Homo sapiens: one gene and its partners. The gene in region 1 interacts genetically with each later gene. Each region holds a gene or a part of one and is shown in the gene's direction. Other genes may lie near its edges. The genes, in order: EXOSC9, XRN2 and OGFOD1.

What was found.
Region 2: changes in EXOSC9 (region 1) and XRN2 together harm fitness more than expected from each alone (negative genetic interaction), as found in Homo sapiens cells (one large-scale study listed by BioGRID).
Region 3: changes in EXOSC9 (region 1) and OGFOD1 together harm fitness less than expected from each alone (positive genetic interaction), as found in Homo sapiens cells (one large-scale study listed by BioGRID).

The regions. Positions count from the first base shown.
Region 1 is NC_000004.12:121,811,159-121,814,494, forward strand, and holds part of EXOSC9 (exosome complex component RRP45), read left to right. Parts: intron 1-424; coding exon 425-513; intron 514-2,075; coding exon 2,076-2,222; intron 2,223-2,707; coding exon 2,708-2,889; intron 2,890-3,336. UniProt on the Homo sapiens protein: Non-catalytic component of the RNA exosome complex which has 3'->5' exoribonuclease activity and participates in a multitude of cellular RNA processing and degradation events.
Region 2 is NC_000020.11:21,309,805-21,313,541, forward strand, and holds part of XRN2 (5'-3' exoribonuclease 2), read left to right. Parts: intron 1-3,737. UniProt on the Homo sapiens protein: Possesses 5'->3' exoribonuclease activity. May promote the termination of transcription by RNA polymerase II.
Region 3 is NC_000016.10:56,461,554-56,465,053, forward strand, and holds part of OGFOD1 (prolyl 3-hydroxylase OGFOD1), read left to right. Parts: intron 1-980; coding exon 981-1,081; intron 1,082-3,500.

The DNA.
Region 1 (3,336 bases):
CTTGTTGTTATAAGGATATAAATATATTGCACAGTGTCTAGCACACATTTATTAAGTGTGCAATAAATGTTAGTTTCTGGTATCATCATCATCATCTTTACCAGCATCACAAGTACTACCCAGATTACCCACAGAAAAAGGAAGTTAGTGCATCCTGGAGCATATATGTGTCTGTGGCCTCTTCTGTGGTATCTTTTATACTGTTGTATAAGAAAGTTTTTATGTCTGTTCCCTTGATGTGACAGTCCTTCACATATCTTAAAACAACTTTCACATCTTGCCTTAATCTGTGTTTACATTGTATTCATGTTTGGAAAAGTCAGGCTTAAATTATAAAGGTAGAAAAATTTCATGGTTTTAGTTTCATTAGAGAAAACTATTTGGTTTATTGTCTTTAAACAACAGAATTCACTTTTATAAATAGGTTCTGAGATGCAGTAAAATCGCTGGTGTGAAAGTAGCAGAAATTACAGAGCTAATATTGAAAGCTTTGGAGAATGACCAAAAAGTAAGGTAAGTAACTTTTCCAGAACTAAGTGGTCTTTTATTTTCATTTTTTAAATTTTTATTATTTTTTTTAGTATAAGCAAGCTTTATTATGCATGAACTTGATTTCACATACAAAGTTAGAATGGCAATTTCAATTAAAATTGACTCATTAAAAAGTGTAAATACCATGGTATAGTTATGTTACCCAAAACTCCGAAAGGTAGTGAAACTGGTAACAGATATTGCTACTCATCTTTGGACGGATACAATAAAAGTATTAATGAAACTGGTTCCCAGACAAGTATGTGTCACTTGCTCCTGTGCCTTAGGGAGGAGAGGATGTTATAACACAAGCATTATTGATGCAGTGACTTGTGGATAGTTGCTCCTTATTAACACTGCTAAAATTAGGTTCACGTTTTTTACTTTGTGTGGGAGCTGGTGATTCTTGTCCTTTTGTTTTATGAGGGATATCTTTCAAAGTGCTGGCATCAAACCCACTTATTGCAAAATGCATCACAGATGGGAATTTAAGTCTGGGTCAAGTCCAGAATTCTAAAACAATAAAGAGGAAAGACCCTCCTAAGAGCAAGAGGTCTTCATTAATCCAGACTCCAAGATACAACACAGGGAACAGGAAATGGCCCTAAATGGTCTTTTAATATATTTTTTTTCTTAAGGATCTTCCTTGAACGAGGGCAACCATATAAATTTCACACTTGATCTTTCCTTATTTGTTAATCTGAATTGAGTATACTATTTAATGTGTTTTTAGAAAATTGGACTTGTTATATTTTCTGCAATTTAAATGTAACCTATATTGAAAAATCATATAAGATTTTTGTTTGTTTTTTGAGATGAAGTCTCACTTCTCACTCTGTCACCTAGGCTATAGTGCATTTGTGCAATCTCAGCTCACTGCAGCCTCCGCCTCATGGCTTCAAGTGATTCTCCTGCCTCAGCCTCCCAAATAGCTGAGATTACAGATGCATACCACCATGCCCGGCTAATTTTTATATTTTTAGTAGGGATGGGGTTTCGCCGTTTTGGCCAGGCCGGTCTCAAACTCCTGACCTCAGGTGATCCACCCGCCTGGGCCTCCCAAAATATTAGGATTACAGGTGTGAGCCACCGTGCCTGGAGACATAAGATTTTTCTTTAGCAGTTAACATTTTCTTAGGATAAAAATAATCTAGTAACTCAAATTAATGGAAGGAAACAGGTTGATTTCCATCTCTACCTCTTACTGTGCTATCTTAAGCAAGATACATAACCCAGCATTTCAGTGTCCTCTTCTATAATATGGGATATTAACACTACCTGGTAGGGCTGATTTGAGGGTTAGAGAATAGTATATTTTAAGCACCTAGCACATGGTCTGGCACGTGGTTTAATAAATGATTATGCTAACTATTTACTCTTGTTAGGCATAATAAATTGGTGAGGTTAAGTTAGATAAACTAACTCTCTTCCAATATTTTTCATCCACCAAAGGATAAAATAATAGTTTTTTTCCCTTCCTGTCTTCTATCCAATCTGTTACCTTCCTCCCCCTTCCTTCCCACCAAAAAAACCCCCACATACAGGAAAGAAGGTGGAAAGTTTGGTTTTGCAGAGTCTATAGCAAATCAAAGGATCACAGCATTTAAAATGGAAAAGGCCCCTATTGATACCTCGGATGTAGAAGAAAAAGCAGAAGAAATCATTGCTGAAGCAGAACCTCCTTCAGAAGTGTATCTTTATTTGGTGGTTTTTGCAGTAACAAGATTCATAACACTTGGCATTATAATATTAGGCTATATGAAGGATGTGTATACTGAAATTAGTTTTTGTAAACACTGTACTTTGTTAGAGAAAACACTTAAAATACAAGATAGAGATGTGAGTCATATTCTGTTGATGGTATAACATTCAGCTTCTATTCAGTTATCCTGGAAAAAACAGATTTTAAGGACCAATTTAATTTAGTACTATAACTAAAATGTTGAGAGAATCTGTCTCTTCACATTTCTTATTAATTGCATCCATAAAATCTTGCCTGAGTTTTTTTTCTTCTTCATTGTTCAGCCATCCATAGTGTAGCTATATTAAGTTTTTTTTCCCCTAGGAACTTGGGGCACACTTGAATCAATCTTACAAGAAGAAAACTTTCATTCTCATCTTCAACAGTTCATCAAATAGCAATATTTTTGTTACTCAGTTTTCTTAACTTGTTAAGTGTTTCTACACCTGTGCTATGGACTCCTGGAACTGCCCAAATTGGAGAGGGAGTAGAAAACTCCTGGGGTGATCTTGAAGACTCTGAGAAGGAAGATGATGAAGGCGGTGGTGATCAAGCTATCATTCTTGATGGTATAAAAATGGACACTGGAGTAGAAGTCTCTGATATTGGAAGCCAAGGTAGGTGACACTTTATGGCACACTTACTATATATTACATACATATAGTATTACCGTATAGTTATATATATAATGCATAAAATGTGTGTATATTTATATTATCACTGTATATAGTAATATATAGCATATTAGCTATATAGAGATGTATAGTGGATAAATAACATACAGGATACTATATAGAGAGAATATAGATATGTAGTTATATATAGGGATGTAAGTATTGCATTTTTAGAGGGGCTAAATATTGTGATTTAAATTTCAACTAAATTATTGTGGCTAGCTGCAATACTAATGCTACTTTCTAAAAGAATATGCATATCTTTGTAGAGTAGTGGAACACTGGCATAAATGATAGTGATATTTTTAATTAAAAAAATTTTGTGTGTGTGTATGTATGTGGGTGGGTTTTAAGGGAATGAGTTTCTTGAAGATCTTATTCCTCCCTGCT
Region 2 (3,737 bases), on another chromosome or scaffold:
ATCTGTAGTGATGTTACCTCTTTCATTCCTGATACTTGTAATTCTACTTTCTTTGTTTTGTCCCATTATCAGTCTGGCTACACTGTTCTCAGATAACTAGCTTTTGGTTTCATTGATTTTCTTTATTGTTTTTCTGTTTTCTATTTCTTTGATTCTGCTCTTATATGTATTTGTTATGCTTACTTTGGGTTTAACTTGTTTTTTCTCTTCCTTGTTTATTAAGGTAGAAGCTGAGGTCATTGTTTTGAGACATTTCTTCCTCTCTGATATAGATCTTGAGTGCCATAAATTGCCTTCTAGATATTGTTTAAACAGTGTGCCACAAATATTAACATGTTGTATTTTCATTTTCATCCACTTAAAAATATGTTCTAAAACTCCCTTTGGCCCGCTGGTTATTTAAGAGTGTGACTTAATTTTCACACACATGGGAGATTTTCCAGGTATTTTTTCCTGTTCGTGATTTTTAATTTAATTCCCTTATCAGAGATCATATTTAATTTGAGGTCTGTTGAAGTTTATCAGACTGGTTCAGAATATGGTCTCTATAAATGTTTTATGTGTATTTGAAAAGGATACATTTTCTGCTGCTGTGAAATTTTGACTATAACTTTTGGATTTTTCTGTTTCTCCTTTCAGTTCTATTGGTTTTTGGTTGTGTATTTTGAAGCTCTTTTATTAGGTGCATAAATGCTTAACATTGTTCTAGTTTTTTGGTGGATAATACACTTATTATGAAATGACCTTCATTATTCTTGGTTAATATTTGCTCAGAAATCTATTTTATTTGTCATTAATACAGCCAGTTATTCTGACTAGTGTCAGCATGGTGTGTTTTTTTCTATTCTTTTATTTTAGCCTGTTTGCATCTTTATGTTTAAAGTGGACGTTTTTGTAGGTAACATAACAATTGGGTCTGGCTTTTTTTTATTTTTATTTTTTATTTTTTATTTTTTTTGAGATGGAGTCTTGCTGTGTCGCCCAGGCTGGAGTGTAGTGGCGCGATCTCGGCTCACTGCAAGCTCCGCCACCCGGTTTCATGCCATTCTCCTGTCTCAGCCTTCCGAGTAGCTGGGACTACAGGCGCCCGCCACCACGCCCGGCAAATTTTTTTGTTTTTTTTTAGTAGAGATGGGGTTTCATTCACTGTGTTAGCCAGGATGGTCTTGATCTCCTGACCTCGTGATCTGCCCGCCTCTGCCTCCCAGAGTGCTGGGATTACAGGCGTGAGCCACTGCGCCTGTCCGGGTCTGGCTTTTTTATACAGTTTGAGAATCTCTGCCCCCTCTTTTTATTGGGATAAAACATACATAAAATTACCATTTTGACTGTTTTAAAGTGTACAATTCAATGGAACCAAGTATGTTCAAATTGTTGTGCAACTGTCACCAATGTCTATTTCCAGAACAATTTTATCATCCCAAACAGAAACGCTACCTGTTAAACAGTAACTCCTTGTCCCCCTCCCCACTTTCTATCTTTATAAATTTGCCTATTCTAGTTACCTTATGTAAATGAAATCATAATATTTTTCCTTTTGTGTCTGGCTTATTTCTCTTAACATAGTGTTTTCAAGGTTTGTCCATGTTGTTGCATGTCTCAGAATTTCATTCCTTTTTAAAGCTGAATGATACTCCCATTGTATATGGGAGTATATGTCACACTCTGGACACTTTGGCTGGTTCTACCTTTAGTCTATTATGAATAACACTGCTATGCACATTGGTGTACAAGTATCTTTTTTAGTCCCTGCTTTCAGTTCTTTTGAGTATGTACCTGTGAGTGGAATCATTGGATCATGTAATTCTGTGTTTAGCATTTTGAGGAACCACCAAACTGTTTTTCTAGTCTGCTTTGTAATTGGGCCATTTAGAACATTTATATTTAAAATGATTATTGATGGCCAGGCATGTTGGCTCACGCCTGCAATCCCAGCACTTTGGGAGGCCAAGGAAGATGGATCATTTGAGGCCAGGAGTTCGAGAGCAGCCTGGACAACATGGTGAAACCTCGTCTCTACTAAAAAAGTAACAAAAAAAAATTAGCTGGGCATAGTGGTACAACACCTATAAACCCAGCTACTCAGGAGGCTGAGGCACAAAATCACTTGATCCTGGGATACTGAGATTGTAGTGAGCTGAGATTGTTCCACTGCACTCCAGCCTGGGCGACAGAGCGAGCCTCTGTCTCAAAAGACAAAAAAAGATTATTGATATGGTTAGATTTAAATCTGTCATCTTACTATTTGTTTTCTGTCTCATCTGTTCATTGTTTCAGTTTCTTAAGTCTTATGCCTTCTTTTAGGTTGTGTTTTTTTTTGTCTTTTTGAGAGGAGTTTCACTGTGTTGCCCAGGCTGGAGTGCAGTGGCGCGATCTCAGCTCACTGCAAGCTCTGCCTCCCAGGCTCACGCCATTCTCCTGCCTCAGCCTCCCGAGTAGCTGGGACTACAGGCGCCTGCCACCATGCCCAGCTAAGTTTTTGTATTTATTTATTTTTTTTTAGTAGAGACAGGGTTTCACCGTGTTAGCCAGGATGGTCTCTATCTCCTGACTTCCTGGAATTACAGGTGTGAGCCACCGTGCCCGGCCTTAGGTTGTGTTTTTATGATTTCATTTTATTCCCTTTGCTCACTTATTAAGAACTCTTTACTGATTCAGTCATCAGCTTCTTCACTTCATATACTTTAACTGCTTGGCTCATGCAGTCCTCCATTTATCAGCTTTCTGACCATCGGAAAATGACTTAAATGCCTAAACTCTAGAGAGCCAGAGCTTCTTGTTAAAACCAAACCCCAAGATTTTTTTTTTTTTTTTTTTTTTTTGAAGACAGAGTCTTGCTCTGTTGCCCAGGCTGGAGTGCAGTGGTGCAATCTCTGCTCACTGCAACCTCTGCCTCCTGGGTTCAAGCCATTCTTCCTCAGCCTCCCAAATAACTGGGACAACCAGTGTGCACCATGACGCCTGGCTAATTTTTGTATTTTTAGTAGAGGTTTCACCACGTTGGCTAAGCTGGTCTTGAACTCCTGACCTCAGGCGATCCGCCTGCCTCAGCCTCCCAAAGTGCTGGGATTAGAGGCGTGAGCCACCATGCCTGGGCCCTAGATAAATTAAATAACACAGTTCAATTGAGCAATGAACAGTTTGCCAGTTGAGTGGCCCTCAGAACCAGAAGAGGTTTGGGGAGCTCTTGAAAACAGAAGTGAGGTACAGAAACAGCTTAATCTTTTGGCTTATTTAAACATGGCCAGATAAGTTGGCAACCTGTGATTGACTGAAGCTCGACTGCTGCGATTGGCGGAGACTCTGCTTTTTGTTACAGAAGTATGCTCCTAAGTTAGGCTTTTCCTTAGTGGACTTTATGTAAGTAATATTGCAGTTCTTCAAGTGAAGAATCAGTAAGGAGCCATCCTCAGGCCAAATTTGGTGTAAGTTAACACACTACGCTACACTGTGCTGCTCCCTACAGTTTCCCCCTCTGGTCATCTCTGTGCAAGGGCTGAAAGCAGAAGGCTGCGTGTCCTCATTTGTTGCCAGCTGGGAATGTGTATGTTGGGTGACTCAATTTTTCGCTGCTCTGTGCATGTCCACAAATGACTGCGAAAGTACCATGATTATTAATTTTGGGGTTAAAAATAAATTTCAGTGAGTAGACATATTTGCAAATATGGGATTCATGAATAATGAAGATTGGCTATGTATGTATCACAGAGGGTGGTTGTGTGGATTAGATGTATTAA
Region 3 (3,500 bases), on another chromosome or scaffold:
TATAACTGTTTGGTTAGAAGCATATGGGTCACAACTTGAACTTGTAATCAGTATCTGAAGTGGGGTTGGGGGAGAGGGCACACTGGGGGCAGTCTCATGGGACTAAGCCCTTAACCTTTATTAATGCCTGGTAGATAGTGTCAGAATTGAATTGAATTTTAAGACACTCAGCTGGTGTCAGAGAATTGGTCAGTGTGGGGGGATAAGCCCACACATTTGGCATTGGAAGTGAAGTAAAGTGTGTAAAGAAAAACAGTTGAGGCCAGGTGCTGTGGCTCATGCCTATAATCCCAGCACTGGAGGCCGAGGCAGGCGGATCACTTGAGGTCAGGAGTTGGAGACCAGCCTGGCCAACATGACAAAACCCCATCTCTACTAAAAATATAAAAATTAGCCGGGCGTGCTGGTGCATCCCTGTAGTCCCAGCTACTCGGGAGACTGAGGCAGGAGAATCACTTGAACCCAGGAGGCAGAGGTTGCAATGAGCCAAGATCACACTGCTGTACCCCAACCTGGGCAACAGAGCAAGACTCTATCTCAAAAAAAAAAAAAGAAAGAAAAGAAAAGAAAAACAGTTGAGCTTTCCATTTTAGTGCTGAAAAACTTGTCTGAAAATCAGTAACTTGGACTAGACCACTGGTGTGATGAGTTGTTATGACAAAGGCCAAACTGCTGCCATGACAGGGCATACTTTAAATTTAGGAGAAAGAAAATACTGAGAAAACATGAACCATTAGAACAAAAAATAACAAATATAATGTAGGTAGAGACTTACATTTATTTTTCTGGGAACATTAGACTTAAACTATGCAAATTTGAACTGAGAAACATTTCTCAGAATGTCTCAAATGAGATCGGAGAATGGATCTCTTGAATACAATGTGATCTCCAGGAAAGAAAAGTTGTGGCCTAGATCCAAACAGTTGTGACCTAGATCCCACACTGTGGCATAACAAGTTATCTTTTGTTTACATTTCTAGGAAAATTCTGTTTGAAGATTTCCGGTCCTGGCTTTCTGATATTTCTAAAATTGACCTGGAATCAACCATTGACATGTCCTGTGCTAAATATGAATTCACTGGTAAGGAAGATAAAGGCCTGGTGTCTGTAAGATATAAAGGCTTTAACTCAGCATTAATGGAGAGATGGTATCTGTGTACCAAAACACTCAACTGAATGTCCCTGCAAAGCATCCGGATCTTCCTGATAAAGACCCAGTTCATAGACAGAAATACCCACCTTATTGGAAGGCATAAGCAGTGGTTGTCTTTCAGAATATGATGAAAGCTACTGACCATATTTTCAGCAAAATCCCCATAACATACATACACACCAACTGTACATACAATATCAAGAAATTCAGAGTGATATATAAACTCTATTCTTAGACTTCCTAAGGAACAACCATCTCCTTCAATGCCATTCTCCCTTCTCTTTTTTATTTTGAAGGCAATAAGTGAATGCATTCTTAAAGGAAAAAAAATCAAACAATATTGCAGGTATATGGTGTAAACCATGATAGCCTTCTTCACCTTCTCCCTGCTCCCTCTTCTCTTCAGAGGTACCTATTGTCACCAGTTTGGGGTGCATCCTTCCATTTCTCTTTCTGAGCATATAAATGGTTTTTTTGGATACAAGCTTGGTTTTTCACCCAGAAGGAAAAGGTTTTTTCTTTTTTAAATTTTACTAAATAAAATAATTCTTTGAGTGTACTCTCATACACTGTCCTGGAAGTATAGATGGCTCACAACTTTTAGAGGATGACTTGGTGATACATAGGAAAAGCCATATCATGTATCTTCATTTACTGCCATGTCATTTCTTTTTTGGGTTTTTTTTTTTTTTTTTTTTTTTTTTTTTTGGTTTGTTGGTTCGTTGGTTCGTTTTGAGACGGAGTCTCCCTCTGTTGTCCAGGCTGGAATGCAGTGGCGTGATCTCGGCCCACTGCATCCTCCACCTCCCGGGTTCAAGTGATTCTCCTGCCTCAGCCTCCTGAGTATCTGGGATTACAGGCATATGCCACAATGCCTGGCTAATTTTTGTATTTTTAGTAGAGATGGAGTTTCACCAGTTGGCTAGGCTGGTCTCAAACTCCTGACCTCAAGTGATCCGCCTGCCTTTGCCTCCCAAAATAGTGGGATTACAGGTGTGAGCTACCATGCCAGTATTTTTTTTTTTTTTTTACTTTGAAGTAATTTCAAACTTGCAGAAAAGTGGCAAGCATAGTACAAATAATTTATTTTTTCCTATTTTACTTGAGAGTAAGTTGTTGGCATGATGTTCTATGACCCCTGAATACTTCAGTAATTTCTACAAGGACATTCTCCTACATGATAATCATAAACCATCAGAATCAGGAAATTTACGTTGATGCCTTATTCCACATCAATGGATTATCTAATCCTCAGGCTCCATTCAGGTTTCATTATTTGGTCCTTTATAGCAAAAGGACCCAGTCCAGGATTGCATGTTGCATTTAGTTATAATATTGTCTCTTCAGCCTCCCTCAATCTAGAACAGCCCCTCCATCTTTCCTGGACTTTCATGATCTTTATGCTTTTGAAGATGTACAGATGAGTTATTTTGGAAAACTTGCTTCAGTTTGGGATTGTCTGATGTTTTCTCATGATTAGATTCAGGCCATATATTTTTGGCAGGATTACAGAAATTAATCCTGTATTCTTTTCACTGTATCAGGTGGTGCATGGTTTCAGTGTGTCACATTATTAGTGATATGAACTTGGATCACTTGATTAATGTGGTGGCTGACATCAGGTTTTTCCACTGTTCTTTTTCCCTATCAGTATATATTTTGTGGGGAGATACTTTAAGATTATGTAAATATCCCATTTCTCATCAAAGTTCGATTTGCTTATTTTAGCATTCTCTGATGTTTCTTGCTAAATTATTACCATGAAGGTTGCCAGATGGTGATTTTATAACACAATCATTTCTCTACATTTATTGTCATTCCACTCTAGAGAAGACCTTTCTCCTGATTTATTTATTCATTCGTTTATATTGGTATGGATTTATGGATTGCTGGTTGTGTAATGAGCTGTTACCAGTTACTATCATTATATTGATGCTCATACTGTCCCTGATTTATCAAGGAGAACCCCGTCAAACTGACTTCTGCGTTCTTTTGCTATGTCCCCATCATTCTTTTTTTTTTCCTACTTTCTGCAAAACAAGATTTTCCAAGCTTATCTTTGTATTTTCCATGCCAACGTCCTAGAATGACCTGGAGTTGGCCATTCTTCCAAAGAATCCTGGTTCCTTTTAGTGAAGAAAGATACTTAACAATCAAGATCTGGACTCTTAAGTGTCTTTGCTATTAGGGTGTCACTGCTCCCAGACCCCTTCAGTTTGAAGAGGTGGTGAATATCTGTATACATGTATATACACATGTGGATGCACACACATACATTTACATTTGGAATGTATTTCTTTTTTTTTTTTTTTAGACTGTCTCTCACTCTGTTGCCCAGGCTGGAATA